4 linked regions of the Homo sapiens genome follow. The protein of the gene in region 1 interacts with the protein of each later gene in a biochemical or structural test. Each region holds a gene or a part of one and is shown on either strand. Other genes may lie near its edges.

Region 1 (7,919 bases):
AGTGCAATGGCACAATCTCGGCTCACTGCAGCCTTTGCCTCCTTGGCTCAAGCCATCCTTACACCTCAGCCTCCTGAATAGCCGGGACTACAGGCACATGCCATCATACCTGGCTAATTTTTGTATTTTTTGTAGAGACAGGTTTTTGCCATGTTGTCCAGGCTAGGTTTTTGCCATGTTGTCCAGGCTGGCCTTGAATTCCAAACTCAAGCAATCCACCCGGCTCAGCCTCCCAAAGTGCTGGGATTACAGGCATGAGCCACCATGCCCAGCTGTAGATTTTTATTGAAGTATAAAATACATACAGAAAATCTGCTGAAAGTACTATGTGTATGTCTCATTGATTTTTAAAAGTGAATATATCCACGTAACCAGTATCCAGATCAGGAAACAGAACATTAGCAGCTTCAGTGGTTTTCCTCATGCCACCCACTCCATTCTAGTCACTACACCTTCCAAGGCTAATCAATATCCTGACTTCTAACATTATAGAGTAGTTTTGCCTGTTTGTGAACTTTACTTGAATACAATTATACAGTATGTGCTCTTTTGTGTCTGATTTCCTTCGCTCAACATTATATTGTAAGATCCATTCCTGTTGCTGCTTGTAGTTGCAAATTGTTCACTCTCATTGCTGTGGTTATCACAATCAATTCAACTGTTAACAGGCAGCTGAATGGTGCTGCTGTGAACTTTCTAGAGCCTATCTCTGTGTGTACACATGTACTCATTTTTGTTGGGTATAACCTATAATTGAAATTGTTGATCATAAGGTATGTATGATGGTTGGCTTTAGTAGGTACTGCCTTGGCTTCATTTTATAGATGATGGGAAAAATAAATGCAGAAAGGGAAGAGATTTACCCAAGATCACCTGGCTGCTAAGCTAAGATTGGAACCTGAGTTTATTCTCTTCCAGTGCATTTGTCTAGGCCCCAATTTCAAGAAGAGGCAGCCTAGAGATTCAGCAGAGTCTTACGTATCACACATTTAATTGATGATCTGTCCTTAGAATCAAATCCCTTGGGTAAGATGAAAACAATGACCGAGCATGAGAGGAGGTGCTGTTCAGTGGGGACATAATTGTAAATACCAATTTAGAGTGGAGGGAGCTGGTACAAGGTCTTCCCATCCTATCAAAGAATAGCATGCAGCATGTCTCTAAGTAAGATTTAGATTCAGCCTACTTCAGTGCCAGGCCCTGTAGATGGTGCTTTCCCACAGATTATCTCATTTACTCTTCTAAACAAAAACCAGATCAATTCACATTCTTAAGGATTCTAAAAGCATTATATCAAATGAGAGTAGATGAACTCTCTAAGTAAACACGAGCAATGTAGAACAGTGCTTCTTAATCTGCTAAAGGACCAATTCATCATAGAGCAATATTTTTGTAAATAAAAATAAAAAATTACTAGAAAAATAGAATGAAAAGATATTCAAAATATAAGCTTCTGATTATTGTTAGATTAAACAGACATAAAGTGTTGTTAAATTGCTATAAAAGTTTCTAAAAACTCTCAATTTCTACATTTATGTCATTGGCTAATTGTTGGGAACAGGCCCCCCAAAATCTGGCCATAAACTGGCCCCAGAACTGGCCATAAACAAAATCTCTGCAGCACTGTGACATGTTCATGATGGCCATAACGCCCACGCTGGAAGGTTGTGGGTTTACCGGAATGAGGGCAAGGAACACTTGGCCCGCCCAGGGTGGAAAACCACTTAAAGGCGTTCTTAAACCACAAACAATAGCATGAGCGATCTGTGCCTTAAGGACATGCTTCTGCTGCAGATAACTAGCCCAACCCATCCCTTTATTTCGGCCTATCCCTTTGTTTCCCATAAGGGATACTTTTAGTTAATCTAATATCTATAGAAACAATGCTAATGACTGGCTGGCTTGCTGTTAATAAATACGTAGGTAAATCTCTTTTCGAGGCTTTCAGCTCTGAAGACTGTGAGACCCCTGATTTCCCACTTCACACCTCTATATTTCTGTGTGTGTGTCTTTAATTCCTCTAGCGCCGCTGGGTTAGGGTCTCCCCGACCAAGCTGGTCTTGGCAGCTAATAATGGTATCCAGATCAATACTGGTTTGCAGACTACACTGTGAGTAGCACTGATTTATAATTCACCACCCATTCCCACTGGCCTTTCCAGAAAGATTGATAATGATCTTACCAGTAGAAATGCTTGAATAACAAGGTATCAGCATAATATTGAGACCCTGGCAACCATTCCCACCAATGCAGGTTACTGCATACATTAACAGGACTTTATCGTTCCCCTGTCTTCCAAAAATTTCTTGCCCAGGAAGATAAAAAGCTATGAATAACTTTCTTGTTCTTTTCAAGAACTCCCCACCAAATCTCATTGAAATGAACATAAACCCATTAGACTTTTCAATAGATAGCATTAAAAAGACTATTTACTCTCCAAGACTCTTGGAAAGCTTTGCCTAGGGTCTACCAGTCCTTATCTATTATATCATGATCCTTAGTCAAACTTAATCAAGCACCATCCCACTGGAAGGCCTGTCTTCATCAAGATTCCAAAACCTTATAAATATCCCTTCCCCTACTCCAAGATGCTACTGAGACTCTGCCAAGGCAGGGCTCTCCTTATCATGGTGTACAAAAAATTCAGCTTTGCCTTCTTCCACAGCTTATTTTGCTGATATTTTCTGGGAGCTAGCATTCAACAATCAAGACTTTACTCCTCCTTTTAGCCTTGCTCAGTGGTTTTCCAAGTTTAACGAACATAACAATTACTGAGGAGTATTATATATGCAAAAGCATGCATGGGCAACTGAAGGAATCTCCATGGGTAATTTTGATTATGGCACATTTAGGACTAAGCCTTGCATACAGATATTAGCAATTTTTGAAAGAATAAAGAACCACAGACTGTTAAGAGCTGAAAGTAGCCCTAAATGGCAAGACATCAGGGTGTGAATCAGCTATTAATACATCGAAATCACCTGATGTAGTCTGTTTAAAAAACACCTATCCCTTGGTTTCACCTGAGATCGACTGAATCAGAATTTCTGGAGATGGGGCCTGTGAATGCAACAAACTTCTAAGCGACTGTGATGCACGATCGAGTTTGAAAACCACTGTTCTGTGCCAACCATTTCATTTTGTAGATGAGGAAATGGAGACTCAGAAAAGGGAGTAAACCTTTCCAAGATCACACCGCTATTGAGCTACGTGTCTCTTAATTCCCTGACAAGAGCTCTCGGGGCTGGAGATACGCTTTTGGAGATGTCCTATATCTGATATCCTGAACAAAAATGATTAATGATGTAATCAAAACACACTTATATTTTGGCTTCTCACCATCCCTTTAAGATTTATTGTCTAGGAGGAGTTGTAGTAATCTTCCCAGGCTAGCAGACATCATGACTTTTCTGCTGTTAAGTAAGAGGCACCAACTAAAGCAGATTTTTTTTTTTTTTAAAAAAGGTAAAATTAAGACTCTTAAGATAAAATGAACCTATACGGTGTTGAGAATCTGTTGACTATCTTTTTGTTAAATTTTAGTTCTACTCAGAAACTGTTGCTTGTCACTTTATTTAGTTTAAGGAACTGTGGATGGGTTAATAAAAGGCTGAGTAACATCTCCTGGGAAGAAGCACAGCTGGCCCTGGCAGGAAGTGCAAGTGGGGTCTGGGAAAAGATTCAAGGTCCAAGCAGCTACTCCCCACGGTTTCCATTACTCAGACCACGTGGCTTCTTGAGCACACTTCTTTGCTCCATTCTTTGGTTTCCCTACTCCTCAGCATGCACGTGGCTAGAAACAGCCACCCTAGTTTTGATTGCGAATGATCATCAGTCACGAGCACAACTTCTGACAACAGTCTCTCCAGCTTAGTGCAGTCTTAACTGGGGCCAGCTGATCGTCTGCTCTTCAGTAAAGCAGTAGCGCCCTTTGGATTAGGTGTTCACCCAGGTTCAATCAGCTGTGGCCTAGAAGGGGCCACAAGGAGGAAACACAGTTGCCAAGGTGCTGTGAGTCTGTGTGTGAGAGACAGACAGAAGGACAAAGAGCCAGAGTGAGAACTTGAGATGGGTAAGCTCAATAACACGTGCCTTTTAATCATTTCCAGTATGAGTCCTTCAAACACTGTGCTTTGTATGACTCCCCTGTTATCTCAAATGAGTCTGGTTGTCACTCTCTTGCTTTTATTTAGGCAGGATAAATTTTGCGGGAAGTCCTGTAGGAGCTCATGGTTGTGCTTTTCCCATTCATGTTTCCACCACCACGTGGGATCTTCCTTTGTATAAGCTGCTGGAAACACGGATGTCTTACAAGAATAAGAAGCCTCGGCTTTACCCTTGTGCACTCCAAGCTTCTCAGTCTTGGATGGGAGTAGAGACGAGGAGGTTGACGGTCATGGATAGGTTCAGGAGTGATTGGTTCTGCCCACTTTGGTGGGGCCTGGACACATTTTGGTTCACTGCAATAATTTCTTCCAGGAGCTGCAGTCTTGTGGGCGCAAGACGTGGGCCTGATAACCCCACAGGCAGTAGTGCTGGGGCAGAGCGAGCTCACCAGCCGCCGGCTGGAAGACCCCGGGAGAGTAGCAGGGTTGGGTTGGTTCTCAGATGTGTTTTGCGCCAGGCTGTGTGGTGGGGACAGAGCCTGGGTAAATGAAGCTTTCCGGCTCGACCGCTCCCAACCTGGGCACACACGTCCTCCTGTCCTGCAAGGGGCAGTTTTGGGGCATCCTCCCTGCTTGGGGCAACCCAGGGGCGCAAGGCGCGGCCCCGGGAGCGCAGCTCCTTCCAGGGCAGAGGGCGGCGCGAGGGAGGGAGCGAGGGAGGGAGCGAGGGAAGGGAAAGGCGAGCGTGAGCTGCCTCAAATGCTTGGAATAATTCCGCTTCCGTTTGGAAAGCCGCAGCCTCAGTCCCGCCGCCGCCCGCTGCGTCCGCCCAGCGCCAGCTCCGCGTCCCGACCGGCCCGCGGCAGCCTGCGCCGCGCCATGGCCACCTCCCCGCAGAAGTCGCCTTCTGTCCCCAAGTCTCCCACTCCCAAGTCGCCCCCGTCCCGCAAGAAAGATGATTCCTTCTTGGGGAAACTCGGAGGGACCCTGGCCCGGAGGAAGAAAGCCAAGGAGGGTGAGTGCGGCCAGGCCGGCCGGGCGGGCGGTAGGAGCCGGGGGTGCCGTAGGGGCCGAGGGGCCGGGGCACTGGGACCGGGCGGGAGCGCGCCGCGGGTGCCCGGCGCGGTGGGGCGCGCGGCGATGCGTGCGCGCGCTTCCCGGGTACGTCGGGCAGGAGCGACGCGCACCCCACACTGAGCCCGGGGCTCGCGGGCCATCGAGGCCACCCCGCCCGCTCGCGGTCGCCCGGGCGCTGCCCTCCTGGGCCGGGGACCAGGCCAACGCCCCCGCCGGGCCGTGGGCGGGCGCCGCTTGGCGGCCGGAGGCGGCGGGACCGGAGCCCAGGCGGGGCCCCAGCCCGCAGACAGTGCGATCCAGTAGGCCCTGCCCCGCCCTCTGCGCCCGAAGGCTGGCATTTCCCAAGTTTCCGCTGCAGCTTTCCTGGGCGCCGTCGCTCTTACTCGTTGCCTTCATTGGTCCTTAAAATCAGGTCGTTTCCTGGACCTGCTGACGTCCTCTGGCAGCGGCGTCGTGGCTTTGGCCTCTTCGGGATCTTTTGTCCATCCCGAGGGCTGAGAAGGGCTCTGTTAATGGAGTAGGTGGACATCGAGTGTTTGTTGAATGAATGAGCGAAAAACTGGCAAACCTAGCGTGCCCTCGGTGTAATACACAATAAACTCCCACCAAAGGAGAAAACCTGCGTGAGACACAAACTTCGTCATGGGCCTGCTGTGAACTCAGGCATTCAGGGCTTTCGTAAAAACCTTTGTTTTTTCCCCACCAGAGTGAATTGAGGCGACCTTATTCTTTTTTTTTTTTTTTTTTTTCAGGGTAGTTTGCATGTAAAATATTTTTTTTTCCCATGCACAGATTTTGCGTCCTGGTTTTTGGTTTGAAAACGAGGTGGCAGTTCTCAAGAAGCACTGTGGTGACTGGTGTGTAGATAGAAGTTGCTGAGTTAAACATTTTTGTTTTAAACATTTTTTAGTTGATGCATGATGTACATAGTTCTGGGGCACATGTGATAATGTAATACATTCATATAATTTGTAAAGATCAAATTGCACAGGAAAGGGGTCCCAGTCCAGACCCCAAGAGAGGGTTCTTGGATCTCACGCAAGAAAGAATTCAGGGTGAGTCCACACAGTAAAGTGAAAGCAAGTTTATTAAGAAAGTAGAGGAATAAAAGAATGGCCACTCCATAGACAGAGCAGCCTGGGGCTGCTGGTTGCCCATTTTTATGGTTATTTCTTGATGGTATGCTAAACAAGGGGTGGATTATTCATGTCTCCTCTTTTTAGACCATATAGGGTAACTTCCGGACGTTGCCGTGGCATGTGTAAACTGTCCTGGCGCTGCTGGGAGTGTATCAGTGAGGACGACCAGAGGTCACTCTTGTCGCCATTTTGGTTTTGGTGGGTTTTAGCCGACTTCTTTACTGCGACCTGTTTTATCAGCAAGGTCTTTATGACCTGTATCTTGTGCCCACATCCTATCTCATCCTGTAAGTTAGAATGCCTTAACCTTCTGGGAATGCAGCCCAGTAGGTCTCACTCAGCCTTGTTTTACCTGGCCCCATTCAAGATGGAGTTGCTCTGGTTCACATGCCTCGGACAAAATCACTGTACTTGGGATATCCATCACGTTAAAGATTTGTCTTTTCTCTATGCTAGACCACTGGAATTCTAGATATTTTGAAATATACAAGAGGTTATTGTAAAATATAGTTAGTTTACCAATCTAACACTAGGTCTTCTTATATCAAATGGTATATTTGTAACCATTAATCAACTTCTCTTCCCCCCTAAAAAATGTTTTTAATAGATTGCTCCATGAATTAGAAATAACCTTTTGAAAGCTGTGATGCTGTGTGAAATTTTCATGTTTGTAAGTCATCTTAAAGTATAAAAACATCTTCAGCGCTGAGGATTATCAGACTTGATGAAGAACTAGACTTCTATTCCCTAGATTGAAACGAGAAGCAGCAAAAACATACAAAAGTTTCCCCACATTGGTTATTTTGGTAACCCATCGAGTAGTGTACAGTTGGTGGCAAATCATGAAACCCTGGCTTGGGAAGCTCTTTTCTAGACCATGTTTCTAACTTCTTCCTTGCAGCATTCCTGACATAGTCTCATCCAGTTTAAGATGGGGCAACTGAGAAATATTGAAGCTCATGACCTACCAGGATAACCATCTTTACCTACTCTGTAGAAATTTATCTCTCTGTACCTATCACTGTTGGTAGAGCCAGAGAATGAGTCTGGGGTGGCCTTTTATTACTACCTTGCTGAAGTAGGCTATCCTGCTTTCTAGAGTCTTCTCTCCACCAGGCCCAACATCCTCTATTCCTCACAGACATAATTTTAAGGACTTTTGCATCCTGTCTCTTTAGTTTCAGACAGGGTCCCTGCAGGAAAAAGAAGGCCAATTTAGTTGAGATTTTGAAAATAATTTAGTGAAAGGGCTATTGACAGAGCTGTGGGCAGGGTTAAGGGAACTAAGAAGGGATGCTGAGGTCCCTAGGGGCTAGCAACAGGAGGAAGCTCTTAATCACTCCGAGGCCTGAGGGACAAGGGAAGCAAATTGGAACCTATTACAAGCTGGGGTTATGGACGAGGGGCTGCTGGACTGGAACTATAGTCATAGAGGGATGCAGCTACTGTCCGAAATATGCAGACAGAGCAAGGAGAGAGTGGCACAATAAATGCACATTCTGCATGTTCTCTGTCTTCTTGCCCGTGCATCACCTACTGGTGCTGAACCCAGTGGGAAGCCATCAGAGCAAGGGATCTGCAATAGATAGGGGCAGCG
Region 2 (7,024 bases), on another chromosome or scaffold:
GGCCTTGAAGCAGTTATGAACAGAAGACACCAGAGCATTCACTTACATTTTCAAACTCCAGACTGTCTGATATCCTTCTTAATCTGTTGGACGGTATATGAATACCAAAAGCATTATATTTTAAGGTGATTTTCCCAGATAATGTTCAGTAGCAGCAATTATTTCCCTGAAGTCGATAGATCTCAGGATGACCTATTCCCTCAACATTGTATTAAAATTGTGTGTGTGCACATGTGGAAGTTTCTAGGAAGAGGCTTCTTCACTTTAATTTCTCAAAGAGGTCTGTAACAAAAGAAGTCATGACACAATTTTATGGTTTGGCCCTTGTGTGTCAGGTTCATCTTGAAGCTAGGGTTCATCCCAGAGTGCGGCATTTTAATTAAGCACGACATAAGTGTAAATAATGTTTCCTTAATATGTGTCAGTAATATCTTTGTGTTTAGTTAGACTTTTATTATAAATAACGTGTACACTTTGCTTAAGGCCATTAAAACACAATTTTTAGAATTTTGACTTTAATTCAAAGATCTGAAAAGTCTCATTTATTTATTTATTTATTTATTTTTTACTTTTTGAGACGGGAGTCTCACTCTGTCGCCCAGACTGGAGTGCAGTAGCGCGATCCCGGCTCACTGCAAGCTCCGCCTCCTGGGTTCACGCCATTCTCCTGCCTCAGCCTCCCGAGTAGCTGGGACTACAGACACCCGCCACCATGCCTGGCTAATTATTTGTGTTTTTAGTAGAGACGGGGTTTCACCGTGTTAACCGGGATGGTCTTGATCTCCTAACCTCGTCATCCGCCTGCCTTGGCCTCCCAAAGTGTTGAGATTGCAGACGTGAGCCACCACGCCCATCCTAGGTCTCTTTTAAATCTCAGTATAAAACACATTTGTCATTTGCTATTAATCTTTTAAAAGAAAGCAAAAGCATATGTCATGAAGTGGGCTTTGGGGAATTATATCGTAATGTGACAAAGTTTTTGCATTTGTGACTTAGTCTAGGCTGATACTTCATAAATAATTGATCCCCTCAGTGTTTATACTTCATCCAGAAAGTGAAAAACACCCTAAAATCCAGTTTAGGTTGGGTACGGTGGCTCACATCTGTAATCCCAGCAGGCAGGGAGGCTGAGGCAGGTGGATCACCTGAGGTCAGGACTTCGAGACCAGCCTGACCAACATGGAGAAACCCCATCTCTACTAAAAATACAAAAATTAGCTGGATGTGGTGGCATGTGCCTGGAATCTCAGCTGCTTGGGAGGCTGAGGCAGGAGAATCACTTGAACCTGGGAGGCGGAGGTTGCAGTGAGCCAAAATCACACCACCCAGCCTAAGCGACAGAGCAAGACTCCGCCTCAAAAAAAAAAAGAATTGTGAAAATTTAGTACTGTTTGGTTTGGTTTGAGGCAAGGTCTTGCACTGTCACCCAGGCTGGAGTGAGTGTGTGTTCATGGCTCTTTGCATCCTCAAACTTCTGGGCTCAAGTAATCCTCTTGCCTTAGCTTCCTGAGTAGCTGGAACTACAGGCACGCACCACCACATCTTGCTGACTTTTAAAATTTTTCGTAGAGATGGGTCTTGCTTTGTTGCCCAGGCTGGTCTTGAACTCCTGGCCTCAAGCAGTCCTTCCACCTTGGCCTCCCAAAGTGTTGGGATTACAGATGTGAGCTGCCATGCCTGTTTTTTTTTTTTTAATCAAAGACAAATTTCAAACGTGTATAGTGTTTTTTAAAAGAAAAATTTTAAATATGAAATATCAGGGATAAGGATTATAAAAACAAGACATCAAAATAAAATTGTCTTCAAAAATAAATTTTGTCAAGAAGAGGCCCAATTTTATGGGATTCCTCTGGAGGTCATTGAGAAGTATTAAATCCTTGGCTGGGCACGGTGGCTCATGCCTCTAATCCCAGCACTTTGGGAGGCCAAGGCGGGCAGATCAGAAGGTTAGGAGCTCGAGACCAGCCTGGCCAATATGGTGAAACCCCGCCTCTACTAAAAATGCAAAAATTAGCCGGGTATGGTGATGGGCACCTGTAGTCCCAGCTACTCGGGAGGCTGAGACAGGAGAATCGCTCGAACCCAGGAGGCGGAGGTTGCAATGAGCCGAGATAGTGCCACTGCACTCCAGCCTGGCAGACGCTAAATACCAAGTGGATCTGTTCACTGAGTTTTAGTATCACTTTTTAAAATGTCTTTTTAAAACTTATGTGTACAATTAAATTTCCACCTTTCTATAAAAATTCATTTTAAACGGAGAATAAGGAATTTATTATAATCTGGAGCTCACTGAATGGAAATCTCCAGCCAGCTCTGTGAGCAGAGAGGAAAAAATAGGTGATCTCTAAGTTTCCTCTAGCTCTGATTCTATGAGTAGAGAGAATGTAGAAGTTGGGTTAGATCAAGTCACACAATCTACAAGGGAAAAAAATGCAAATTGGAAGACTCAGGAGTAACTAAAAAGAAACATATGAAGTTGCTTTAGAAAGATTGAGGATTAGGCCGGGAGTGGTGGCTCACGCCTGTAATACTAGCACCTTGGGAGTCTGAGGCAGGTGGATCACCTGAGGTCAGGAGTTCTAGACCAGCCTGGCCAACATGGTGAAATCCCCGTCTCTACCAAAATTACAAAAAAAAAATTAGCCAGGCATGGTAGCGGGCGCCTGTAATCCCAGCTACTCAGGCTGAGCCAGGAGAATCGCTTGAACCTGGGAGGCGGATGTTGCAATGAGCTGAGATCACACCACTGCACTCCAGCCTGGGTGATGAGCGAGATTCCGTCCCCCCGCCCCCAACCCACAAAAAAAAAACAACAACAAAAAAACATAGAACAATTGAGGATTGGCTGGGTGCGGTAACTTACGCCTGTAATCCTAGCACTTTGGGAGGCCGAGGCTCAGAAGTTGTTTGCTTGAGCTAGGAGTTTGAGACCAGCCGGGCAACATGGTGAAATCCCGTTTCTACAGAAAAACAGAAAATACAAAAATTAGCCAGGCGTGATGGCACGCACCTGTAGTCCCAGCTACTCGGGAGGCTGAGACAGGAGGATTGCCTGAAGCTGGGAGTTTGCAGCTGCAGTGAGCTGTGATTACACCCCAGCACTCCATTCCTGGGCAACAGAGCAAGACTCTGTCTCCAAAAAAAAAAGAAAAAGAAAATCTGAGGATTATATTTCTGAACGTGGCCTTTAGAAAGAAGTCCTTGCTTTAAAAGTGTGTCATGTTCTTGCCATATAATAATGAAAAAAGTTCATTTATGTTGGAGTTGCATGTTAGGATCAAGTTAGATTGTGAACTTAGCACATGTGACCAAAAAAAGAAATAGATTTTAATAAAGTTACCACTAAAAATCCCTTAACGTGATCATTAAGTATGGTATACGTTCATTGCATCTCACAGAAGTGGAAAATAGCTAGTTTTTCCTCTAGGAACTCCAAAAATAAGTTTCATTAATTGAGCACCAGATGAAGAAACTGGCTTACATGAGGGGCTTCGTTACACAAAAAAATACTTTAAACACTAGGATTAGAGCTTGGCAAGATGCACACTGGGAAAGAGGCATACGTAACTGGACAGCTCCCTTATACCCTGGCTTAGTGCTCCCTGGGGAAGGTGTGTGCTTATTTGGTGGAATGGTGCCTATGCAGTTGAAATCCTTAGTTTTTCCCCTTGAGGGCTCACAACTGAATTCATGGAAATTAATGCCTACATGATGCATCCTCATTGCATTCATAGTGAAATACATTAACATTATAAGAAATTTTTTTAAATCTTGGGGGTGGAGTAGGAAACAATGTTAAAATCTTATTAAAGTGAATTAAGTTTTGGTTAAATCTGATAGTAAGTTTACTCAGTGTTTAAAACACTGTTCATGATCCATAGGAAGTGAATTAAATTGTATCAGTTTCTTAGCAAATTTTAAGTTCTTTAAAAGTGGAGGACAGTACTCAAGTTTTACTGTAATCCTGTGACAGCTAATAAAGTATGAGCTATTCCTTAGAGTATGTGCTATTTGCTGCCTTTTGTTTTTGTTTTGCTGCTATGTTTTATACCCAGTTTTTTAAAGTAAAAAACTGTTTGTTTCCAACTAGAGTTAACTTATTTATAGAGATGCTAAAAATATGTTTATTCAATTACTTATAAAAGGCCTTGTTGGAAATGTCTAATCGCTCGCTATTGAAGAGAATGGAAAGAAAATATGTAAAATTTTACCTGTTATCTTTGGCTCTTAATTTTTAAAAGTTTCAAACATCTAAGTTCAAGAGTAATTGAGTGAACACTGCGTAATCTTCATCTAGACACCAGTTAGTATTTTGCCATTTGAATTTTCTATACACACAAACATACACATGTTGGGGAGCAGTTGGATGAAGTTTCAGACTTACTCATAACCTTTGATTCCTAAATATTTAAATATGTATCACCTAAGAACAAGAAACTTCTCTTGCATAATTACAGTATAGTGATCACATTCAGGAAATTCAACATTGATTCACTTCTGTCATCTAATATGCATCCATTTTCAAAATTTGCCAGTTGTCCCAATAATGGCCTTTGTTTTTTTCCCATCCAGAATCTCATTTCGCATTTAGTTGAAAGGGCCTCTTAATCTCCTTTGATATACAGAACAGCCACCAAGTGTGGAGCTACAGGAGATTATATAATAAATGGCTTATTGACATTACATTAAGATACATGTAAAATGATAGTATCTGTTTGTAAACTTTATGGCCACCCTGTAGAACAGTTCCTCAGCCTTGGTCTTTTAAGACATTGTTTAACCTTTTTAAAATAAGGTTCTTAGTATCAGTGCAAATTTCACTTCAGAGTGATTTTTTTTTCTTTTGAGACAGAGTTTTGCTCTTGTCACCCAGGCTGGAGTGCAGTGGCACGATTTCAGTCCACTGCAACCTCCGCCTCCCAAGTTCAAGTGATTCTCCTGCCTCAGCCTCCCAAGTAGCTGGGATTACAGGCACCCGCCACCACGCTAATTTTTGTATTTTTAATAGAGATGGGATTTCACCATGTTGGCGAGGCTGGTCTTGAACTCCTGACCTTAGGCGATCCGCCCACCTCGGCCTCCCAAGGTGCTGGGATTACAGGCATCAGCCACCACGCCTGGCCAAGAGTGATATTTTTATAGGTTCTTTTTCACATACTTTATTTTTAAAATTTAGTTTACTTCTTAGCTTACTATTAAATAAGCTGTTAATAATAGTTTTAGACATCATTGGATGTAGGTTTCCCATAATGTCAGCTGTTCTCAGACTGTAGTAGGTGCTGATGGAGGCACAGATTATTAAGAAATAACAGGTTGCCTAGTGTGTCAGAAGATCTGGATTCAACTTCTGGCTCTGTCTGCTACTTTACTGGTTAGTATGACCTTTGGACAATGAATCCAACCTGAGTGGGTTTTGACTTCTATAAAATAGAAATTGAAAAAAATTTTCTTGGGGCGGGCGGGGTGGCTCACGCCTGTAATCCTAGCACTTTGGGAGGCCGAGGCAGGTGGCTCACGAGGTCAGGAGATCAAGACCATCCTGGCTAACACGATGAAACCCCGTCTCTACTGAAAATACAAAAAATTAGCTGGGCGTGGTGGTGGGCGCCTGTAGTTGCAGCTACTCGGGAGGCTGAGGCTGGAGAATGGTGTGAACCCAGAAGGGGGAGCTTGCAGTGAGCCGGGATCGCGCCACTGCACTCCAGCCTGGGTGACAGAGCAAGACTCCATCTCAAAAAAAAAAAAAAGAAAAAGAAAAACATTTTCTCACAGGTTTTGGTGAGAATTAAATGAGATAATACATATATATTGATACTACATGTATATATACTTTATATAAACTATTTGTGTTATGCAAATGAGAGTGGATACTTCTCTGTGGCATTGAGTCTCTGAGTATATGAAAGTAGGAAGGAAAAAAAGGAAAAGTAGGTTAAAATATAATCTAGTATATTTAATAAGTTCCAGCTTTACTGGTGGGGAATTGCACTCCTCAAAAAAAGCTTAGTTTAGGATTGCTTTCTGTTCCCACCCTCTAAACAACAAGAAAAAATAGCTGTCATTTTACTTTCCCGCCAACTTCCAAACACACACCTGCCTCTGCAGTGTAAGAGAGCTATTTAAGTACCATTTTAATAAGATTTCTGAAATGCAGGGGACCAATAAGTGGATGATGGTATTCCAGGTATTTGAAAAATCTAAAACCATGAAAGCATCAGTAGTAAATTAATTCTCTACTTAATATATTCTATAAGAGCAGTGTTTTTAGTTCATTTATAGCAAAGGCACATGAAAACATTGGGCCTATTTAGAAACTAATGAAAGTAGTTTCAGAAAAAAGCTAATGTATGCAGTATTCCTATTTAAATAATTATTTTACTGACAAATTAATGCTTATGCCATGGAACATTTAAAATTGGTATATATGCCCAGTGAGAAGTAAACAAATACATCTGAAAGTGTATTTTTAAATAATTCTTTTATTTTGTAATTAAGAAGTGTGACTTCTGCACTTGGGTTTGTGGTTACAAATTCATATTCGTTATAATTCATTCTTTAACAAATTAGTTGCATAATTACTATATAATTGTTTTTCCTGTTAATTTTTTTTCTTAGTGTCAGGCTCATTGAGGTCTGATTGACATATAGTAAAATTTATCCTTCTTAGTATAATATTCTGAGTTTTGACATGTAAAACTACCACAGTCAAGATAGAAAACTTTTACAGTACTCCCAAAAGTTTCCTTTGTAACCGTCTCATCGCCTCAAACCCAGATCCTAAAAACCAGTGATAATTTGCCTTTTCTAGAATGGCCTGCAAATGGAACCATTCAGTTCTAGCTCTTTGAATCTGGTTTCTTTCACTTAGCATAATACATGTTAGCTTCGTTCATGTGTTTGTATCAATAGTTTTTTATCACTGAGTAGTAGTCCATTGAATGGATTATTTCACAGTTTGTCCATTTAGCAATTGAAGGGCATTTGGGTTACTCCCAGTTTTAGGAGATGATGAATAAGGCTGCTG
Region 3 (6,957 bases), on another chromosome or scaffold:
CACTGCACACGTGAACACAGCTGCCATTTTGTATGTGCCAAGGACTCAATGCAAATAAAAATATATTTTAGGTGTCTGTTGCCGTTTTGAAGTCATCAGACTTCTAGCAGGTTTATAAGCTGAAAACTTAATAGAGAACTTTATATTGGGTAAATATTTATCAAAATCATCAATCAGGAAAAAAAAATCCACTTCTTTTCTCCTTCAAGCAGCTTTCTTATTCTACCTAAATTAACTCTATAGAATTTTTAGCAAAAAGGTGCTAGAGGAAAAAATCATTTGTGTTTAACAAGTTAAAGCAGCAGAGACTTTCAAAGTTCTCTACTCATTTATTTCCCTTTTGTGTTCAGTGAATACGGAATATGGCCACATCTCTCATTCAGTCTAATCTACCCATACCCCAGACATGACATGACTTACTTTTTTTTTTTTTTTTTTTTAACTGAGACAGGGTCTTGCTCTGTCACCCAGGTTAGAGTGCAGTGGTGCAATCATGGCTTACTGCAGCCTGGATCTCCCAGGCTCAAGCGATCCTCCCACCTCAGCCTCCCAAGTAGCTAGGATCACAGGCACATACCACCACACCCAGCTAATTTCTATTATTTTAAAAATTTTTTTCTTCAACTTTTATTTTAAGTTCAGGGGTACATGTGCAGGTTTGTTACGTAGTAAACATGTGCCATGGTGGTTTGCTGCACAGATCATCGCATAATTTTTATGATTTTTTGTTTTTTGGTGGAGATGTGGGTCTCCTTATGCCGCCTGAGCTGGTCTTAAACTCCTGGGCTCGAGCAATCCTACTGTCTTGGCCTCCTAGGTGTTGAGATTACAGGCCTGAACCACCACACCCAGTTGATTTACCTTTTTGAAGGTACTAGTTCAAAGGTGAGTTTATCAGTGTATGGGTAATTGACAACAGATTTTTTTTTCAATATTTGCAACTTGAATGTATAAGATTTCAAAGTCAAGAAATAGAGCTTCTCTTTATCTTCCACCCTTCTGCTACCTGAAGCGCAACTATCTGCTAACTAAAAAAAATATATTAATACCTTAAAACAGTTCTCTAGAAACCTCAGGTTATTATAAGAAACTATGAAGCTCTTATCCAATGTTTCAAATTCCATCTCAAAAATCACCTCCTTTCTGAAGCCTTTTCTCATATTCCCTGCCACTCCAAACACCTGGCAGAAGTAGACACATTCTTCTGTATTCCTTAGCATCCCTCCTATCATCTGAAGACAAAGTGCGTGCCCAGTTAATCTGAGTATTTTCAACATATATTACGATGTCTAGCTCACAGTAATACAGTGACTAGCAAATAAATAATCCATTGCTGATTAATATGTATGAATTAATTAAATAACAGACTCAGTGAATTGATTCTGCTTGTTTTTTAAGGGGGCAAAGGGTGTGCTTTTTTTAATATATATGTACAAAATTTTGAAGTTCAGAATACACTTTTTAACCCACTTCTAACCCAGGACCTTGGGGGATGGGTTGGACCTGTGTCACACAAACGACAGTAACCGTGTAATAAGTAAAACATAAAGTTAAATTAAAAGCCTAGGACAGCCGGCCATGGTGACTCACACCTGCAATCCCAACAATTTAGGAGGCTAAGATGGGAGGATGGCTTGAGCCCAGGAGTTCAAGACCAGCTCAGGCAGCTAAATTTAAAAATTAGCCAGGCACGGTGGTTCACACCTGTAGTCCCAGCTTGGGAGCCTGAGACATCAAGGCTGCAGTGAGCCATGATCATGCCACTGCACTCTGACCTGGGGGAGAGCAAGACCCTTTCTCAAAAAAAAAAAAAAAAAAAAAAGCCTAGGACACATAATATGGATAAAACTCACAAACATAATGTTGAACACAAGAAGCCAGACACAAAATAGTGCACATGGTCTGATTCCATTTATATAAAGTACAAAGACAGGCAAAACCCTTCTGAGGAGTTAGAAGATAAGATAATGGTTATCCTGGGCCTGGGGTCGGGGGTAGGGGCAGGCAGCGGCAGTGATCATAACTGAAAGGAATAACTAAAAGGGGTCACTAACGGGCTTCCGAGGACTGGTGATGTCCTGTTTCTTCAACTGGGCACTCTTTATACGCTAGTGTCTTTATATACTCTGTATACAGGTGTGTTCAGTTTGCGAAAACTCATCAGCTATACATTCACGATTTGTGCTCTTATCTATATATATTGTGTATATGTATGGGTGTGTATATATATGATACACATTTATATACACACAAGTCACTACATAAAATTACAAGTTTAAAAATTAACCTAGGCCAAGAAGAACGCTTAAAACCAGTCGAATTCTTTAGCACAATGCAGATATTTTCAATTGAAAAGAGAAAAACCATATTGGTATGAATAGATAGAGCCATAATTCAAGGTCACACATAAAATCTTGACCACAGGCTGGGCACGGTGGATCACACCTGTAATCTTAACACTTTGGGAGGCCGAGGCAGGTAGATCACAAGGTCAAGAGATCAAGACCATCCTGGCCAACATCATGAAACCTGGTCTCTACTAAAAATACAAAAATTGTAGTCCCAGCTGCTCGGGAGACTGAGGCAGGAGAATCACTTGAACCCGGGAGGCGGAGGGTGCAGCAGTGAGCCAAGATCGTGCCACTGCACTCCTGCCTGGGGACAGAACAAGACTCCATCTCAAAAAAATATATGTGTGTGTGTGTGTGTGTGTGTGTGTGTGTGTGTGTTTGTGCGCGCGCGCGCGCGCGCACTGACCACAGTCTAAGTTCTAATGGGCCATAAGCAGGGTTTCATGATGTTAAGAGGTAGGGAAGTGGGACCAGATGACCCTTCCCATCGTTGACAAACGCTACCAAGTGAAGACATTCTGTTTCAAGTTTTTAATGATTTTATTTCAATTATAATATCCTATATTTGCCAACAATGTTCAACTAACCTTTTTAAATTAAATGTACTTTCAAACCCATAATAATTCCTGAATATGGTAATGTTTAAGCGAAAACAGATTCAACTTCTAAATTTTATAACTTCTTTATTAAAATTTAAGTGTTCACAAGCCTTTTAATGCAAATCGCTAAAGCCTGTACTATATTGCATGAAATCCCTCCGTGGAAGAGCACGCATTCTATCTCTGTACCTATTTCACAGATGAGGAAACTGTCATTTCCATGTCTGTTTTATTAACCACTGTATTCTCTGAGCCCAGGCCCATTGGGAGGCCTGTAGAGCAGTAAGCACTCAACAAATGTGATTAAATGAACAAAGGAGGCTTGGAGAGGTTGTGTAAACTGCCCAGGTCACCCACCCTTCCTGGGTGGCCCCAGCCCTCTTTGAAAATAAATCCAACAGGAAGGCGACTGGCGGGACCGGTGGTGATCCTGAGGTGAGCCATACCAGGTGTGGCCCAGACTTCCGCATGCAGCCTGCCCTTGGGTCTCCTGGAGTCTCCCCTGGTCGGGAGCCTCAGCCTTCTGGAGACTGACACCACCCTCTTACTCAGAGACGAATCGTTTTGTCGTTGCCTTCACCTCCCTGACCACAAGTGCTCCGGGGCTCTTTCTGAGGGAGGCAGCTGTTCTAGGCGGGAGGCTGGAGTCTCCTGGGCCTGGACGCACCCCGGGGTGTGAGTGATGGGTATGCCTGAAAGGAGGGGAAGTGGCGCGGCTTTAATCATCTGGGCTAGTCCCCGGCGGGCCTGGGGGAACAGGGAAACTGGAGGCGGCCTTAAAGCGTCAGGATGAGACATCGCAAGAGGAGCTGCAGATACTGAGCGTGCGCCCCGGGTTCTCGCCGCCTTCTCTCCGCCGAGCAGCCCTTCGGCCACCCTTTGCCCTTAAAAATCTGCAGACTGCGCCTCCTCTCCGCGGGAGCGAGACCTAGCAGGCCCGGGGCTGGGCGTGCCCTCGCCTGCCACGCTGCGCGCTGCCCTCAGCCGGGCCGCTGGGGCCGTGCAGTGCACCGGGCACGCCGCGCCAGGCTGGGGGCAGGCACCGAGCCTCCGTGGGAGGTCCCGAGGCAGCTTCGCCTGCTCGCCCTGGCTCCAGCCCTCACCTGCCGCAGCCTTAGCTGAGCAGCCGCCGCCACTGGGCGCCCCCCGCTCCCCACTTCGCCAGCGCCCGCTCCTCGGCTCGGCCCGGGGTAGTTTGTAGGGACGCAGCTCTCCACGTGCGCGACTGCGAGGCTGGACGCTACGGGCTCCTGGAAAGGAGGTGGGTGCTCCGGAGCTAGGGCTGGGGAGCTAGAGGTTGGGAGGCTTTCATGGGCACCAGTGGCTCCTGAGCCCCCTTAGCCCCTTTCTTTCTGCAGCCTCTTGTACTTAAATAGCTGTTGATTGAAAATAATTTCGTCTGGATGTGACCACCTTCTCCGGCCCTACGCATCTGGCCGCAAAATAAACTTTCAGTTCAGCCGCAGGTGCTGCCTTAATGGGAGTAAGGGGCATGCTTTATCCACCCAACATCCGCCCCAGGATCCTGCAGAGCTGGCAAAAGACAGGTCGGGTGGCCTTCGAACACCAAGCACCTTCAGATATTCCAGGGGAAGGGTCGGGGACTGTTTCCCCCTCATCTTTCCTCCTTCCTGCTCTCCATCCCTCCATGCTTTCGTTTCTTTGACTGTCTGCGAAGGGCTTTTCAGCACTCTGCCAGTAACTTTGCTTCTTGTTTTGGTCTCCTTAGATGCGTTTTCCCGGCTGAAGTTTGCTGCTATCCTTGACAAGTAACAGCTTGCTGCAGACTAGACGTTCACTCAAAAATGAAGGCACAGAAAGATAGGAAAGGAATGCAGGAAAACCAGCTTGGCTAATTTTAGCCTGCATTTTGTTGTAAGGGGAATCAGCATCTATTGCCTGAATGAGTAGTGTTTTGATCACCCAAGTTAGGAAAAGACCTTATATCAGATTGCCCAGTGAAATAAGCAGTAAGGAATCACCTTTAAAAGTTATTTTCTTTATATACAAAACATTTTAAATAACTAGACTTCACAATTATAGCATTTAAGAAATTGTAAGGATCTTAAAGTCGAACAGTTCAATGCCAAGTTATGAGTTTGACGATGAAGGGGCATCTTTTGTCTCCTCACTGCGCAAGATTTGTGTTGATAGAAATGCTTAGTAAAGGCTACTGAGAATTTAGTTCACGTAGTTTGAGGAGTTTTCTTTCATTTTGGCATTGCAACATTATCAAAGTGGTTTCCCAGTGTGGTGAATAAGAGTTTGAAATAGAAAGGCAGACCTGGATTTCCACCTGGGCTCCAGCATCTAACTTGCTGTGTGACCTCAGGCAACTTGCTTCATCTCTCTGAGGCTGAGTTTCCTCATTTCTAAATGAGATTGCTGAGAGGATGAAAAAGGGATAACAGAAGACAGGAGTTAACACAGAGCACATCATACAGTCAGTAGGTAATAAATGATACCTGAAGCTGATGATGACAGAGGCAAGCAGTTAGGCCTAATGCAGTCACTGAGTGGCACTCCTCATGCAGAGGGTTCTGTGTGGATCTCTGTGCATGGGGAGGAGATGCATTGCATCGTTGCATGCTTCTGACTATAGAAACATAAGGAACGGCTGGGCGTGGTGGCCCACGCCTGTAATGCCAGCACTTTGGGAGGCCAAGGCAGGTGGATCACGAGATCAGGAGTTCAAGACCAGCCTGGCCAGCATGGTGAAACCCTGTCTCTACTAAAAATACAAAAATTAACCGGGCGTGGTGGCACACGCCTGTAATCTCAGCTACTTGGGAGGCTGAGGCAGAGAATTGCTTGAACCCGGGAGGCAGAGGTTGCAGTGAGCTAAGATCATGCCACTGCACTCCAGCCTGGGTGACAGAGCAAGACTCCATCTCAAAAAAAACAAAAACAAAACAAAAACATAAGGAGCTACTTCTGAACTCTTGAATTTCATCCTCACCCATAAAATCTGTCCTAAATCTGTTCAGATTTGCAGTATTCAATTTATCTGTGTAGCGTATTTTGAGATTCTCTTATGCTTACAAATGAGTCGTTTCGAATGAACATGCAGAACAGATATGACACTGGTTGTTTAATTATTATTAAAAGTAATGTTCCTCGGATATTACCATCATCCCTGGTTTAATATTGATCTAAATAGGTTGAAGGGAAGAACTGAGTATACCCACAGACCAGCAACATCTGGAGCCTGTTAAGAAATGTATGGCCCCTCCCTAGACCTGCTGAATAGAATCTGCATTTTAATAGGATCCCTGGGGGATTTGTGTACACCCTCAGAGAAGCCCTTTCTTAGGAGTTTGAGTGCATTGATGTTTCTTAAAAATAGGCCTTATGAAAACATGAATTTCTCATAAGCTGGCTTTACATAGTAAAGTGAAAAAGACTCATTATCATTTAAATAATTTTTACTTTAAATGTTTAAAACAGCCAGGAGCAGTAGCATTATTTCTTTCTGTTTAAAAGTAAGAGAGAACTGACATCTCAAGTTTTGTTTCAGTTCTGCCAATTTGGATTCCAGTGTTCCAGTTACCCCCTGAAACATTTCAGTTGTGAACGTTCTTTCCTGCTAGCTTCTCCCATGAGGGGAAAACGATGGGTTTGAAATTCACATCCCTATCTGTACTTTGAAGAGTGAGCTTTTTATATCTGTTACTCCTGTTTTTAAATCTTTTGCCAAAGATGTATCCAAATTTTTAATTGGTGCATTTATAATCAATTTTTATATGACATAGAACAATAAGTAAATCGAATACATGGCAATAATTATTAATGACCTGTATCTATATGTATTTAAGGTAAAACTATATATTATAATGACTGAAATAGGAATTATTTTGCTTTTTTTTATTTTTTGAGCTTTATTATGGGAAGATATACATTTTTGTAGGAGGAATGTAATAATATACATATATTAAAGATATTAAAGATAAGAGGCTTTAATGGCATCCTTTTTAAACATCAACTTTATTGAAGTATAATTTGCATAC
Region 4 (7,024 bases), about 52 Mb from region 1:
CAGCAGTGGGGTTGGGGGCTGGCTGAGGTGGGTGGGATGCAGTGGGAATCAGAAAACTCACCGGGAGGACCTGGGAGGAACTCAGGAAACAGGGCTTTGCAAACTCTCAAGGGCTGTGTGCCCAGAGCAGCTTTCCGGCAGCCTTTTTCCTATGCTCTCTCCCACCTGTTCATGCTCCTGGAGGGAGGAGGCGGGGAGACCTGTGCCTTCCATTACTGTAACTCCAGTTCCCAGCTGGCTGACAAGGGACAGACGCACATCTCTAATTCAATGCTCACTCATGGATCGTCATGTGCGTGCACAAGTTTGCTGCAAACCCTGCAGCTACCACATGGGAGGCCTTGTTCCGTGTCCCAGTTTGTAAGATCGTTATTGTATCTTACAGGGAAACTGAGGCCCAGTGAGGTTAAGTGGCTTGTCCAAGGTCACACAGCTAATAGCTAAAAATATTGAGTGCTCACTGCTCCAGGCCAGGCACAGGTCCAGGCCCTGAGGACATACAACGGTGAGACAGACGTAGTCTCTGCCTCCAGGAGCTCCCCAGAATGCAAGACAGAGGCTGTTAAACCGTGGATTATGGGAGGACAGAGGGGGCGTCATGTGGAGGGAGCCCAGTGGGCTGGAATGCAAGAGATGGGGCGCTAAGATTGGGGCACTCAGATGCTGGGTTGGAGAGCTCCCCTGGGAAGCGATATAGAAGCCAAGCCTAGAAGGCCAAATCAGGGGCTGCCTGCAGAGAGCCCTGCTGCTGTTACCATGGGGTAGACCCCAGGCCCGCCCAGGCTGCCCCACTCTTGGCTTAGGCAGGGCAGGGGAGTGGTCGCCCCAGGCTTCTGAATCCTGGGGTTGTGCTGGGTGTTGGGGGCACCAGGGAGGAAGGTTGGACCCAGATGTGCCCCCGTGCCCCACAGATCGCAAGCAGGACTGGTCAGACCATGCTATTTGGTGGGAACAGAAGAGGCAGTGGCTGCTGCAGACCCACTGGACACTGGACAAGTACGGGATCCTGGCCGACGCACGCCTCTTCTTTGGGCCCCAGCACCGGCCCGTCATCCTTCGGTTGCCCAACCGCCGCGCACTGCGCCTCCGTGCCAGCTTCTCCCAGCCCCTCTTCCAGGCTGTGGCTGCCATCTGCCGCCTCCTCAGTAAGTTGCCCGGCTGATTCCCCTGGCCCACGAGGGTGATGCAAAGAGGCAGGTTCCCCCGTTTCCAGGCCCAGCTCTGTTGACGCTGTCCTTGCTGTCTGGGTTGCCACCCTGCCTGCAGGGCTGTGACCCGCCCCAAGCACCCATGGGTGAGGTGGGGAGGCTGCAGCAGGACCTAGTCCCCGCTGAGACCCTAGCTCCCCTCAGGCATCCGGCACCCCGAGGAGCTGTCCCTGCTCCGGGCTCCTGAGAAGAAGGAGAAGAAGAAGAAAGAGAAGGAGCCAGAGGAAGAGCTCTATGACTTGAGCAAGGTTGTCTTGGCTGGGGGTGAGTGCAAGTGGGGGTGGGCCTGGGGGGTTGGGGGCAGGGGCCGGCCCGTGAGTCCCAGCCCTGGGGGACAGGCCTGGTTGACTCCCAACCTGCACTCCAGGCGTGGCACCTGCACTGTTCCGGGGGATGCCAGCTCACTTCTCGGACAGCGCCCAGACTGAGGCCTGCTACCACATGCTGAGCCGGCCCCAGCCGCCACCCGACCCCCTCCTGCTCCAGCGTCTGCCACGGCCCAGCTCCCTGTCAGACAAGACCCAGCTCCACAGCAGGTGCACCCAGGAGCCACGCCCCCTGTGTCAGGGCTCCCCCACCCAGGATCCACCCCCTGTCCCGTGTCTGTGCCCACCCCAGATCCACACTTCGTTTCCAGGCCTTTTCTCTGTGTGTGCTTGTCCCCCCAGCCCAGCCCCCCTCCCCACCCCACGGCCGTACCTGGCGCAGCCCTGACTGCTGCTTCTGCCGCGGCCCAGGTGGCTGGACTCGTCGCGGTGTCTCATGCAGCAGGGCATCAAGGCCGGGGACGCACTCTGGCTGCGCTTCAAGTACTACAGCTTCTTCGATTTGGATCCCAAGGTGGGTCGGGGCAGGGAGAAAGCGGGCCTCAGGTCCATGAGATGTGGAGACCTAGGGCCTGGGGTATGGGCTCTGGGATGTTAGTGACTTGTAGTGGCCTGTCCGTCTGCCCGTTTGTCCATCCACACCTTTGTTTACTGACCCCACAAACACCCACTGAAACTCATCTACTCACCTCAGCATCAGGCCAGGTCCTGGGCCCCGGGCAGATGCTGAAGCGGATGAAGACCAGTAAGTCTCAGTGCCTGTTTCCCAGGGAGCTGTCAGGGAGGAAGCTAAGACCCACAGATCCTCATAGACAGTGTGTGTGTGGGTGCCCCTGAGAAGTCTGGGGCTCAGGTGGGAGAGGCCCAAGCCTGGGAGCTCTGGGAAGGCTTCCTGGAGGGGGCACCATTAGGGACTGCAGGACCTGGGGGTGGGTGAGGAAGGAAGCTTTGCAGGGTGGCCCCTCTGTGCCCTGTTCACTCTTCCTCCCTTCCTCCATTGGCAACCAACATGCTCCAGGCAAAATGCTCCATGCAATGTGCTTCGCGCACATCTCAAAAACTTCCCAGAAGTCCACAGGTTGCTCTTTCTACCTGTAGGCCCCACCTCTCTGCCCCCTTTCTCTGCAAAACATCGTAGTTGTCTGAACGCTTGCTCCGCAGAATCCCACTTCTTGCTTCCAAGCTTTCTCTGGGTGCTGTTCGACTCCCTCTCACTCCTTGGCCATGGCTATTCTATATATTTTGACACCATCCACACGTGAGAAGTGCACCTGCTGAGGTGGCCACGTCTCCAGGCTATCTGTTCCCTGGCCATGTCCCACCCGCTTCTTACTTGACCACTTACTTGCAGCATAGACACCACCCCGACCACTCCTCCAGAATATCTTCCTCCTGAAGCCTCCTGTACACTTGCTTGGGGGGTGGCCTCTCCCCAAGCCACTCTGCCAGGCTCTGTGATGTTCCCTCCTCCTCTCCATGGCCTCTCGGTGTTGGTGAGCCCCAGGCTCTGCCCCAGGCTCTGCTCTGGGCCTCTGCTCTCTCCTCTCCTTCTCTCAGTCATCTCCAGTCTTGTGGATTTCAATACCATCTCCACACTCTCTCCCAGCTGATCATCTCCAGCTCAGATGTCTCTCTCCTAAGCTTTATTTATTTATATATTTATTTATTTTTATTTTTTGAGACACAGTCTTGCTCTGTTGTCCAGACTGGAGGGCAGTAGTGTTATCCCGGCTAACTGCAGCCTGGACCTCCCAGGGTCATGTGATCCTTAAGCCTCAGCTCCCCAAGTAGCTGGGACGATAGGCGTGTACTATACCTGGCTAATTTTTTTTTTTTTTTTGACATGGAGTCTTGCTCTGTTGCCCAAGCTAGAGTGCAGTGGTGCAATCTCGGCTCACTGCAACCTCTTCCTCCTGGGTTCAAGCAATTCTCCTGGGATTACAGGTGTGGGCCTGGCTAATTTTTGTATTTTTTTAGTAGAGATGGAGTTTCACCATATTGGTCAGGCTGGTCTCGAACTCCTGACCTCAGGTGATCCACCTGCCTCAGCCTCCCAAAGTGCTGGGGTTATAGGAGTGTATTTTTTTAGTAGAGATGGAGTTTCACCATATTGGTCAGGCTGGTCTCGAACTCCTGACCTCAGGTGATCCACCCGCCTCAGCCTCCCAAATTGCTGGGGTAATAGGAGTGTATTTTTTTAGTAGAGATGGAGTTTCACCATATTGGTCAGGCTGGTCTCGAACTCCTGACCTCAGGTGATCCACCCGCCTCAGCCTCCCAAAGTGCTGGGGTTATAGGAGCGAGCCACTGCGCCTGGCCTAATTTTTTTTTTTTTTTTTTTGAGATGGAGTCTTGCTCTTGTTGCCCAGGCTGGAGTGCAATGACGTGATCTCAGGTCATCACAACCTCCGCCTCCTGGGTTCAAGCAGTTCTCCTGCCTCAGCCTCCCGAGTAGCTGGGATTACAGGCGTTGAGCCACCATGCCCAGCTAATTTTGTATTTTTAGTAGAGATGGACGGGGTTTCTCCATGTTGGTCAGACTGGTCTCGAACTCCTGACCTCAGGTGATTTGCCCACTTTGGCCTCCCAAAGTGCTGGGATTACAGGCGTGAGCCACGGCGTCGGGCCAGCTGTGCCTTTTTATTCTAGTGTTTTCTTCTCTATGACATATTTCCACTTCTTTGTTTTGCCATTTCACACATTATCTATTGACTTTGTAAGAAGGTTTCACTGTCTTACATTCTCTTCCCTGCCCACACAATACACACATTTCCTTGCCTCTTTCTAAGTGAGTAGTGTCTGTAGTCTTTGGTTAAAACAATGTGATATGGCTGTAAATAGTAACACATATAAATAGTGTTCCTAGTTAAGCCACAGAGTAACTATGATTATTTTTTCCCTTTTTGCTCAAATGGTTTTGAAGTTCATAATTGCCTTTTTTTTTTTTTTTTTTGAGATGAGTTTTGCTCTTGTTGCCCAGGCTGGAGTACAATGGCACAATCTCAGCTCACTGCAACCTCCACCTCGCGGATTCAAGCGATCTCCTGCTTCAGCCTCCCAAGTAGCTGGGACTGCAGGCACGCGCCACCATGCCCAGCTAACTGTATTTATTTATCTATTTTTGTTGTTGAGATGGAGTCTCGCTCTTGTTGCCCAGGCTAGAGTGCAATGGTGTGATCTTGGCTCACTGCAACCTCCGCCTCCCGGATTCAAGCGATTCTCCTGCCTCAGCCTCCCTAGTAGCTGGGATTACAGGCGCCCACCACCACGCCTGGCTAATTTTTTGTATTTTTAGTAGAGATGGGGTTTCACCATGTTGGTCAGGCTGGTCTCAAACTCCTGCCCTCAGGCGATCCACCTGCCTCAACCTCCCAATATGCTGGGATTACAGGCGTGAGCCACCATGCCTGGCCTACACTTTTCTTTCTTATTTTTCGGTTCTTTTTCTTTCTGTGTCCTACTCTCCGGAGACCTCTTCAACTTATCTTCTAAAATATCTATTGAATTTTTAATTTCTGTAACTATATTTTTAAGTTCCAAGAGCTCTTGTTTTTTGAGTGTTCTTTTATAGGGTTTTTTTTTTTTTGAGAGGGAGTTTCATTCTTGTTGCCCAGGCTGGAGTGCAATGGCGTGATCTCGGCCCACTGCAACCTCTGCCTCCTGGGTTCACGCGATTCTCCTGCCTCAGCCTCCCACATAGCTGGGATTACAGATGCCCACCGCCACCATGCCCAGCTAATTTCTTCTTGTATTTTGAGTAGAGATGGGATTTCACCATGTTGGCCAAGCTGGTCTCGAACTCCTGACCTCAGGTGATCCACCTGCCTTGGCCTCCCAAAGTGCTGGGATTACAGGCATGAGCCACCACGCCCGGCTCAGCTTATTTTTAACAAATGTGTATGGTTGTGCAACCATCACCACAATCCAGTTTTAGAACATTTCCACTGCCCCAGACAAGCACTGATTGCACGATGCCCATTTGCAGTCATTCCTCCTCCCACACCCCGACCACCACTGATCTGCTTTCCATGTGGCTTTAATTTACATTTCCCTGATGACTAATAAAGTTGAGTCCCTTTTCATAAGGCTATTAGCCATCTGGATATCCTGCTTTGTGAGGTTTCTGTTCAAACATTTTGACAATTGTCATATTGAGTCGTTTGTCTTTTTCTTATTGATTTGTAGGAGTTCTTTATATATTCTGGATATGAGCACTTTGCCAGATAAATACATTGTGAATATATTTTCCCCCTCTGTGCTTTGCCTTTTAATTGTCTGAATGGTTTCTTTTCATAAACAGCAGCTCTTTATTTTAATAGAACCAAATTTATATTTTTATCTTTCTTTTTTTATTTTTAGAGATGGGGTCTCGCTCTGTCACCCAGACTAGAGTGCAGTGGTGCGATCATAGCTCACTGCAACCTTGAACTCCTGGGCTCAAGCAATCTTCCTGCCTTAGCTTCCTGAGTGGCTGGGGCTACAGGCATGTGCCACAAGCCTGGCTAATTCTTTAAAAATTGTTTAGAGATGGAGTTTTGCTACGTTGCCCAGATTGGGTCTCAAGTTATCCTCCCGCTTCGGCTTCCTGAGAAGTTGGGATTTTTTTTTTTTTTTTAGACGGAGTCTCACTCTGTCACACTCAGGCTGGAGTGCAGTGGTACGATCTCGGCTTACTGCAACCTCCGCCTCCCGGGTTCAAGAGATTCCCCTGCCTCAGCCTCCTGAGTAGCTGGGATTATAGGCATCTGCCACCACACCCAACTAATTTTTGTATTTTTAGTAAAGACAGGATTTCACTATGTTGGTCAGGCTGGTCTCACACTCCTGACCTCAAATGATCCGCCCGCCTCGGCCTCCCAAAGTGCTAGGATTACACGCGTGAGCCACTGCGCCCAGTTACATTCCTTTAAAAAAAGAATATTCTGGTCTTGATTTATGAGTGCAGTGCTTTAGCTCTGTAAGGATTTTTTTTTTTTTTTTTGAGATGGAGTCTTCTTCTGTCACCCAGGCTGGAGTGCAATGGCAAGATCTCGGCTCACTGCAACCTCTGCCCCCCTGGTTCAAGCCATTCTCCTGCCTCAGCCTTCCGAGCAGCTGGGATTACAGGCATGCACCACCACGCCTGGCCTAATTATTTTTGTATTTTTAGTAGAGACGGGGTTTCACCACATTGGCCAGGCTGGTCTCAAACTCCTGACCTCGTGATCTGCCCGCTTCAGCCTCCCAAAGTGCTGGGATTACAGGCGTGAGCCACCGGGCCCAGCCTCTATAAGGATTTTTTCGCCGGGCGCGGTGGCTCACGCCTGTAATCCCAGCACTTTGGGAGGCCAAGGAGGGCGGACCATGAGGTCAGGAGATCGAGACCATCCTGGCTAACACGGTGAAACCCTGTCTCTACTAAAAATACAAAAAATTAGCCGGGCGTGGTGGTGGGCGCCTGTAGTCCCAGCTACTTGGGAGGCTGAGGCAAGAGAATGGCGTGAACCTGGG

What was found.
Region 2: the proteins of PARVA (region 1) and FERMT2 form a complex in vitro, tested with the Homo sapiens proteins (one study listed by BioGRID).
Region 3: the proteins of PARVA (region 1) and FERMT1 form a complex in vitro, tested with the Homo sapiens proteins (one study listed by BioGRID).
Region 4: the proteins of PARVA (region 1) and FERMT3 form a complex in vitro, tested with the Homo sapiens proteins (one study listed by BioGRID).

Annotation. Positions count from the first base shown.
Region 1 is NC_000011.10:12,372,663-12,380,581, forward strand, and holds the start of PARVA (alpha-parvin), read left to right. Parts: upstream 1-4,908; 5' UTR 4,909-4,985; coding exon 4,986-5,121; intron 5,122-7,919. UniProt on the Homo sapiens protein: Plays a role in sarcomere organization and in smooth muscle cell contraction. Required for normal development of the embryonic cardiovascular system, and for normal septation of the heart outflow tract.
Region 2 is NC_000014.9:52,941,030-52,948,053, reverse strand, and holds part of FERMT2 (fermitin family homolog 2), read left to right. Parts: intron 1-7,024. UniProt on the Homo sapiens protein: Scaffolding protein that enhances integrin activation mediated by TLN1 and/or TLN2, but activates integrins only weakly by itself. Binds to membranes enriched in phosphoinositides.
Region 3 is NC_000020.11:6,120,028-6,126,984, reverse strand, and holds the start of FERMT1 (fermitin family homolog 1), read left to right. Parts: upstream 1-3,954; 5' UTR 3,955-4,211; intron 4,212-6,957. UniProt on the Homo sapiens protein: Involved in cell adhesion. Contributes to integrin activation. When coexpressed with talin, potentiates activation of ITGA2B. Required for normal keratinocyte proliferation.
Region 4 is NC_000011.10:64,209,700-64,216,723, forward strand, and holds part of FERMT3 (fermitin family homolog 3 short isoform), read left to right. Parts: intron 1-911; coding exon 912-1,145; intron 1,146-1,352; coding exon 1,353-1,472; intron 1,473-1,575; coding exon 1,576-1,744; intron 1,745-1,945; coding exon 1,946-2,048; intron 2,049-7,024. UniProt on the Homo sapiens protein: Plays a central role in cell adhesion in hematopoietic cells. Acts by activating the integrin beta-1-3 (ITGB1, ITGB2 and ITGB3). Required for integrin-mediated platelet adhesion and leukocyte adhesion to endothelial cells.